Regions from separate parts of the Homo sapiens genome. Here region 1 is reported to be linked to region 2. Evidence: microRNA targets listed by miRTarBase, many of them from high-throughput screens and not tested one by one. Region 2 holds a microRNA gene; the other region holds the end of a gene's coding sequence.
Evidence for each region. The annotated mature microRNA hsa-miR-518c-3p reads CAAAGCGCUUCUCUUUAGAGUGU and lies in region 2 at 2,946-2,968, opposite strand. An mRNA with a match to its seed (bases 2 to 7 or 8) in the 3' UTR can be bound and repressed. Matches are read on the target gene's strand: a 7mer-m8 pairs with bases 2 to 8, a 7mer-A1 pairs with bases 2 to 7 and ends in A, and an 8mer does both.

Region 1 (4,000 bases), not on the chromosome of region 2:
AGCTGATGCTTTCGTGTTGCATCATAGAGCAGCACTTCTCACCGCACTCCTTGGAACCCTCAGGGCAGGGTTTGCTTCAGAGGGCAGGTGAGACCAAAAGAGCTGGCCGTTAGCTGCAGCGTTTGCCTTTCACTTGTGTAAGCTGTCCCTTAAAAAGGAAGAGCCGCCTGGCGCGGTGGCTCATGCCTGTAATCCCAGCACTTTGGGAGGCCGAGGTGGGCAGATCACAAGGTCGAGAGAGCGAGACCATCCTGGCCAACCAATATGGTAAAACCCCATCTCTACTAAAAATACAAAAATCAGCTGGGCGTAGTGGTGTGTGCCTGTAGTCCCAGCTACTGGGGAGGCTGAGACAGGAGAATCACTTGAACCCGGGAGGCGGAGGTTGCGGTGAGCCAAGATTGCGCCACTGCACTCCAGCCTGGGTGACAGAGTGAGACTCCTTCTAAAAAAAAAAAAAAAAAAAAAAAAAAAAAAAAAAAAAAAGGAAGAGCCAGGGAACAAAGGGAGCCTTGCAGAGCATTTCCCTAAGGTCGGCCGCCGGGTGGATGTGGATCTGCCAGACTGCACTGAGCGGGAGGTGGCAGGGAAATGAGTGAGAGCCTAGGGACCAGAAAGGCTTCTCCAGGGCATGACCGAGCTGATGGCTCCTGGGTCTCTGCACAGGCACTGCGGGTGATGGGGAAGATGATGCGAGAGTGTTGGTATGCCAACGGCGCAGCCCGCCTGACGGCCCTGCGCATCAAGAAGACCCTCTCCCAGCTCAGCGTGCAGGAAGACGTGAAGATCTAACTGCTCCCTCTCTCCACACGGAGCTCCTGGCAGCGAGAACTACGCACAGCTGCCGCGTTGAGCGTACGATGGAGGCCTACCTCTCGTTTCTGCCCAGCCCTCTGTGGCCAGGAGCCCTGGCCCGCAAGAGGGACAGAGCCCGGGAGAGACTCGCTCACTCCCATGTTGGGTTTGAGACAGACACCTTTTCTATTTACCTCCTAATGGCATGGAGACTCTGAGAGCGAATTGTGTGGAGAACTCAGTGCCACACCTCGAACTGGTTGTAGTGGGAAGTCCCGCGAAACCCGGTGCATCTGGCACGTGGCCAGGAGCCATGACAGGGGCGCTTGGGAGGGGCCGGAGGAACCGAGGTGTTGCCAGTGCTAAGCTGCCCTGAGGGTTTCCTTCGGGGACCAGCCCACAGCACACCAAGGTGGCCCGGAAGAACCAGAAGTGCAGCCCCTCTCACAGGCAGCTCTGAGCCGCGCTTTCCCCTCCTCCCTGGGATGGACGCTGCCGGGAGACTGCCAGTGGAGACGGAATCTGCCGCTTTGTCTGTCCAGCCGTGTGTGCATGTGCCGAGGTGCGTCCCCCGTTGTGCCTGGTTCGTGCCATGCCCTTACACGTGCGTGTGAGTGTGTGTGTGTGTCTGTAGGTGCGCACTTACCTGCTTGAGCTTTCTGTGCATGTGCAGGTCGGGGGTGTGGTCGTCATGCTGTCCGTGCTTGCTGGTGCCTCTTTTCAGTAGTGAGCAGCATCTAGTTTCCCTGGTGCCCTTCCCTGGAGGTCTCTCCCTCCCCCAGAGCCCCTCATGCCACAGTGGTACTCTGTGTCTGGCAGGCTACTCTGCCCACCCCAGCATCAGCACAGCTCTCCTCCTCCATCTCAGACTGTGGAACCAAAGCTGGCCCAGTTGTCCATGACAAAAGAGGCTTTTGGGCCAAAATGTGAGGGTGGTGGGTGGGATGGGCAGGGAAGGAATCCTGGTGGAAGTCTTGGGTGTTAGTGTCAGCCATGGGAAATGAGCCAGCCCAAGGGCATCATCCTCAGCAGCATCGAGGAAGGGCCGAGGAATGTGAAGCCAGATCTCGGGACTCAGATTGGAATGTTACATCTGTCTTTCATCTCCCAGATCCTGGAAACAGCAGTGTATATTTTTGGTGGTGGTGGGTTTGGGGTGGGGAAGGGAAGGGCGGGCAAGGAGTGGGGAGGGAGTCTGGGGTGGGAGGGAGGCATCTGCATGGGTCTTCTTTTACTGGACTGTCTGATCAGGGTGGAGGGAAGGTGAGAGGTTTGCATCCACTTCAGGAGCCCTACTGAAGGGAACAGCCTGAGCCGAACATGTTATTTAACCTGAGTATAGTATTTAACGAAGCCTAGAAGCACGGCTGTGGGTGGTGATTTGGTCAGCATATCTTAGGTATATAATAACTTTGAAGCCATAACTTTTAACTGGAGTGGTTTGATTTCTTTTTTTAATTTTATTGGGAGGGTTTGGATTTTAACTTTTTTTAATGTTGTTAAATATTAAGTTTTTGTAAAAGGAAAACCATCTCTGTGATTACCTCTCAATCTATTTGTTTTTAAAGAAATCCCTAAAAAAAAAAATTATCCAATTGAACGCACATAGCTCAATCACACTGGAAATGTTTGTCCTTGCACCTGAGCCTGTTCCCACTCAGCAGTGAGAGTTCCTCTTTGCCCTGAGGCTCAGTCTCTCTCGTATTTTGTCCCCACCCCCAATTCCTTGAGTGGTTTTTGCTCTAGGGCCCTTTCTTGCACTGTCCAGCTGGTTGTACCCTCTCCAGGCATTTATTCAACAAATGTGGGTGAAGTGCCTGCTGGGTGCCAGGTGCTGGGAATACATCTGTGGACAAGACATGCTTGGGTCCTACTCCTGGAGCACTGTAAAAAGAGCTGATTCAAGTAAGTAGATGCCTGTTTTGAGACCAGAAGGTTTCATAATTGGTTCTACGACCCTTTTGAGCCTAGAATTATTGTTCTTATATAAGATCACTGAAGAAAGAGGAACCCCCACAACCCCCTCCACAAAGAGACCAGGGGCGGGTGATGAGACCTGGGGTTTAGAACCCCAGGTGAGACCTCAAATCACTGCATTCATTCTGAGCCCCCTTCCTGTCCCCAGGGGAGGTGTATTGTGTATGTAGCCTTAGAGCATCTCTGCCTCCAACCCAGCAGTTCTCTGCCAAAGCTTGTGGAGGAGGGAGAGCCCTGTCCCTGCCCTCAGGCTCCCCAGTGCTCCTGGCCCTTCTATTTATTTGACTGATTATTGCTTCTTTCCTTGCATTAAAGGAGATCTTCCCCTAACCTTTGGGCCAATTTACTGGCCACTAATTTCGTTTAAATACCATTGTGTCATTGGGGGGACCGTCTTTACCCCTGCTGACCTCCCACCTATCCGCCCTGCAGCAGAACCTTGGCGGTTTATAGGTAATGATGGAACTTAGACTCCTCTTCCCAGAGTCACAAGTAGCCTCTGGGATCTGCCAACACACGTCCACTCCCAAGCCACTAGCCCACTCCCCAGTTGGCCCTTCTGCCCTTACCCCACACACAGTCCAACTCTTCCACCTCTGGGGAAGATGGAGCAGGTCTTTGGGAAGCTCCCACACCCACCTCTGCCACTCTTAACACTAAGTGAGAGTTGGGGAGAAACTGAAGCCGTGTTTTTGGCCCCCCGAGGCTAACCCTGATCCATAGTGCTACCTGCACCTCTGGATTCTGGATTCACAGACCAAGTCCAAGCCCGTTCTTACGTCGCCATAAAGGCCCCCGAACGGCATTCTCGGTACTTCTGTTTGTTTTTGTACATTTTATTAGAAAGGACTGTAAAATAGCCACTTAGACACTTTACCTCTTCAGTATGCAAATGTAAATAAATTGTAATATAGGAAATCTTTTGTTTTAATATAAGAATGAGCCTGTCCAATTTCTGCTGTACATTATTAAAAGTTTTATTCACAGAGCTGCTCTGGTGCCATCTGTCCCACATACGTAGTACGGCCACCCAGCTTTTGTCAGGGGAGTTGGGAATGGGGTGGATGTTCTAAGGTCAGGGTCTCGTGCTCACACCAGCTGTAGCAGACCCCAGCAAGAGGAATGCTGTTCCCAACATCCTGGGTCTTCCTGAGACTGTTGCTTTGTGTTCCTAGAGGGCGGGTCTGGCATGCAAGGGACAGAAGACACAAAGCATCCTTTTCTTGGG
Region 2 (4,152 bases):
AAATTAGGCCAGGCGTGGTGGCTCATGCCTGTAATCCCAGCACTTTGGGAGGCAGAGGCCGGTGGCTAACTTGAGGTCAGGGGTTTGAGACCAGCCTGGCAAACATGGTGAAATCCCATCTCTACTAAAAAAAAAACAAAAAACAAAAAACAAAAAGTAGCCAGGTGTGGTGGTGGGCTCCCGTAATTCTAGCTACTCAGGAGGCTGAGGTAGAAGAATTGCTTGAATCCGGGAGGCAGAGGTTGCACTGAGCAGAGATCACGCCTCGGCCCTCCAGCCTGGGTAACAGTGAGACTCCATCTCAAAAACATAAATAAATGAATTTTAAAAAATGAAAATATTATCCAGGTGTGGTGATGGGCACCTGTAATCTCACCTACTTGGGAAGCTGAGGCAGGAGACTCGCTTGAACCTGGGAGGTGGAGGTTGCAGTGAGCCGAGATCACACCACTGCACTTCAGCCTGGGTGATAGAGAGACTCTGTCCGCTAAAAAAACCATTTGAATCCAAAAGACCTAGGTTGGATGTGCCACCGCACTCCAGCCTGGGCAACAGAGATCCTGTCTTAGAATAAAAAAGCAAAACCAAAACAGAACCCCGCCATCGTCCAAGCCTCATGATAAGCATGCTCTACAAATGTATTACCGAGATAAGCATCAACTTCAACGCTGCTTTTCTCAAACCGTAACACTCCAAAGGGAAGCGCCTTCTTTTCCTTTGGACAAGAGAAAGTGCTTCCCTTTGTAGGGTCACAGCATGAGATCTTCTTGCTCCAGAACTCTGGGTTTTTTGTTGGAATTTTCCTTGCCCAGGTTAAAATGGACACAAAAATGAGGATGCATTTATTGGCCCTGTTTGCATGTTTTCTGGAATCCAGAACATAAACCCCTAAAATGACCATCTCCAGTTCCTTGCTACAAAGAATAAGCAGGTTAGCCTTATCCCTAATCCCAGCACTTTGGGAGGCCGAGGTGGGCGGATCACCTTAGTTCAGGAGTTCAAGGCCAGCCTGCCCAATATGGTGAAACCCTGTCTCTACTAAACGTACAAAAAAATTAGCTGGGGTGGTGGTGTGTGCCTGAAAATCCCAGTTACCCGGGAGTTGGGGAAGGAGAATCACTGGAACCCGGGAGACAGAGGCTACAGTAAGCCGAGATTGCGCCACTGTACTGCAGCCTGGGCGACAGAGCAAGACTGTTTCAAAAAAAATAAATAAATAAAAATAAAAAAAATTTAGTGTCAGGGACAAGGAGATTCAACTAAAAAGATACAAATAAATAGAAAAAATAAGAACATTGTATTAATATTGACATCCATTGGGATTACAGAATAGACTGGATAGATGTGGAGGCCTATATTTTTTGTTTTGTTTTGTTTTGAGATGGAGCCTCGCTCTGTCGCCCAGGCTGGAGTGCACCTGCGCGATCTTGGCTCACTGCAACCTCCGCCTCCTGGGTTGAAGAGATTCTGCTGCCTCAGCCTCCTGAGTAGCTGGGATTACAAGCACGCACCACCACGCCCACTTAATCTTTGTATTTTTAGTAGAGACGGGGTTTCACCATATTGGTCAGGCTGGTCTCGAACTCCTGACCTCCTGATCCGCCTGCTTCAGTCTCCCAAAGTGCTTGGATTACACACCTGGCCCTTACTCTCCTAATGAAGGAAACATGGTTTGGATTGATTAAACTAAACTGATGAAAGGCCTGTATTTGAAGTGACCAACCCAAATGGAGCCTCAGGAACCAGATGGCATGTAATCTGCGTTTTTAAAGAGATGGGATCTTGCTATGTGGCCCAGGCCGGAGTGCAGTGGCTATTCAAAGGTGTGATCAGTGCATGGTATAGCCTTAAAATCAAAGGACCCTCCCACCCTAGCCTTTGCAGTAACTGGGACCCTGTGTGTCCCAGGATGCCTGGCCGTGTCACCTATCTTTGAAATGGGACAAGGTGGCTCACACATTTAGGATCACTTAAGCTCAGCTGAGACCATCCCAGGCAAAAGAGACCCCATCTCTACCAAAAATTAAAACCTGAGCCCAACTACTTGCGAGGCTGACAAGAAGACCACTTGAGGCTGGACGTGGTGGCTCACGCCTGTAATCCCAGCACTTTGGGAGGCCAGGGAGGTGGATCACTTAAGGTCAGGAGTCGAGACCAGCCTGGCCAACATGGCGAAACCCTTTCTTGTCTAAAAATACAAAAATTGGCAGGGTGTGTTGGTGGGTGCTTGTAATACCAGCTATTTGCGAGGCTAAGGTGAAAGAATCACTGGAACTCCACGGTGAGTGGAGATCCTGCCACTGCACTCCAGCCTGGGCGACAGAGGTGGGAGTTACAGTGAGTGGAGATCCTGCCACTGCATTCCAGCCTGGGCGACAGAGCCAGTCTCCATCTCAAAATAAAATAAAATAAATAAAATAAAACAAAATAAAATAACAGGCTGGGCACGGAGGCTCACACCTGTAATCCCAGCACTTTGGGAGGCCGAGGCGGGTGGATCATGAGGTCAGGAGTTTGAGACCATCCTGGCCAACGTGGTGAAACCCGGTCTCTACTAAAAATACAAAAATTAGCTCGGCATGGCGGTGCGTGCCTGTAATCCCAGCTACTCAGGAGGCTGAGGCAGGAGAATCGCTTGAACCACGGAGTCGGAGGTTGCAGTGAGCTGAGATTCCGCCACTGGACTCCAACCTGGTGACAGAGCGAGACTCCGTCTCACACACACACAAAAATAAGAATTAATAATAATAATAGAGCAAGACATGACCCCAAGAGATCTAGTTTGGAGTGCAACCCCTCCCTCTCCAGCCTGGGCAACAGAGACTGGTCTTGGAAAAAAATAAAACCAAAACAGAACCCTGCCGTCATCCAAGCCTGATAAGCATGCTCTGCGAATGTATTACCAAGATCAGCATCAACTTCAACGTTGCTTTTCTCAAACCGTAACACTCTAAAGAGAAGCGCTTTGTTTTCTTTCAGACAACAGAAAGTGCTTCCCTCCAGAGAGTCACAGCATGAGATCTTCTCGCTCCAGCCATCTGGGATTTTTGTTGAAATTTTCCTTGACCAGGTTAAGATGGACACAAATATAAAGATGCATTTATTCGCTGTTTGACCGTTTTCTGGAATCCAGAACATAAACCTCTAAAAGGACAATCTCCAGGCTCAGCAGATTAGCCTTGTTCATCAAGGGGAATCCTCCTAAGTTTTGTCTCCAAGGAGAAAAAGCAATGCCCACTACACATACCTTACCTTTAACCAAGAGAATTGAGGTGGATTTCTAGAGAACAGCAATGGATTGAGTCACATGGTCACTTGAGTTCCAGCACAGGGACACACAGTCATGATGGGAGCATCCAAAATGGAATCTAAATTTGCCAGGCGTGGTGGTGCCCACCTGTAATCCCAGCTACTCAGGAGGCTGAGGCAGGAGAATTGCTTGAACCCGGGAGGCGGAGGTTGCAGTGAGACGAGATCGTGCCAATGCACTCCAGCCTGGGTGACAGGAAAGAAAAAAAGAATATGCATTGTCTTACACACAAACATTCTCCAGGATAGAGCACTGCCTAGGCCGTAAAAGCTCCTCAATAACATTTGTACAGAAGTACGGGTGGAGTGCAGTGGCTTACACCTCTAATCCCAGCACTTTAGGAGTCGAAGGCGGGAAAATTACATGAGCTCGAGTTCAAAACTAGCCTGCCCAACATAGTAAAACCTCATCTGTAAAAATACAAAAGATAGCCAGGTGTAGTGGTTCATGCCTGTAGACACTAATTCAGGAGGCTGAGGTGGGAGGTAGAGGCTGCAGTGAGTTGAGGTCACAACACTGCACTCCAGCCTGGGCAATAGAGCCAGATGGTGTCTCAAAAAAAATTAAAAAAAAAAAAAATACACAAACAAAAACAACCCCAAAGTGATATAAGAGTATTCTCTGTGTGCAGAAGACTATTTTGTGTGAATATAATTATACATAGAAGATTATATGATAACATGTATATATTTTGGAGACCCTGTCTCAAAAAAACAAAGTTCCATGTACTATATGCTCACATAAAGAATAATTCCTACATACTAGTGCTTGGGCAGCAAGAACGAAACTCCATCTCAAAAAAAAAAAAAAGAAAAAATCAAAACAAAAACAGAAGCCCACCA

Region 1: miRTarBase lists ACVR1B as a target of hsa-miR-518c-3p. Seed matches in the 3' UTR shown: 7mer-m8 at 1,259-1,265.

The regions. Positions count from the first base shown.
Region 1 is chr12:51,993,319-51,997,318 of GRCh38, forward strand. It overlaps ACVR1B (activin A receptor type 1B), which reads left to right. Exons shown (of 9, transcript NM_004302.5): 9 at 667-3,760. The coding sequence ends at 792. Among named protein-coding and RNA genes, the nearest start is that of TAMALIN, 12 kb to the right of the region's middle.
Region 2 is chr19:53,707,612-53,711,763 of GRCh38, reverse strand. It overlaps MIR518C (microRNA 518c), which reads right to left and starts at 3,029; the gene lies at 2,929-3,029. MIR524 (microRNA 524) reads right to left here and starts at 762; the gene lies at 676-762. It overlaps LOC107985346 (a long non-coding RNA gene), which reads right to left. Exons shown (of 5, transcript XR_001753998.1): 5 at 3,455-3,495.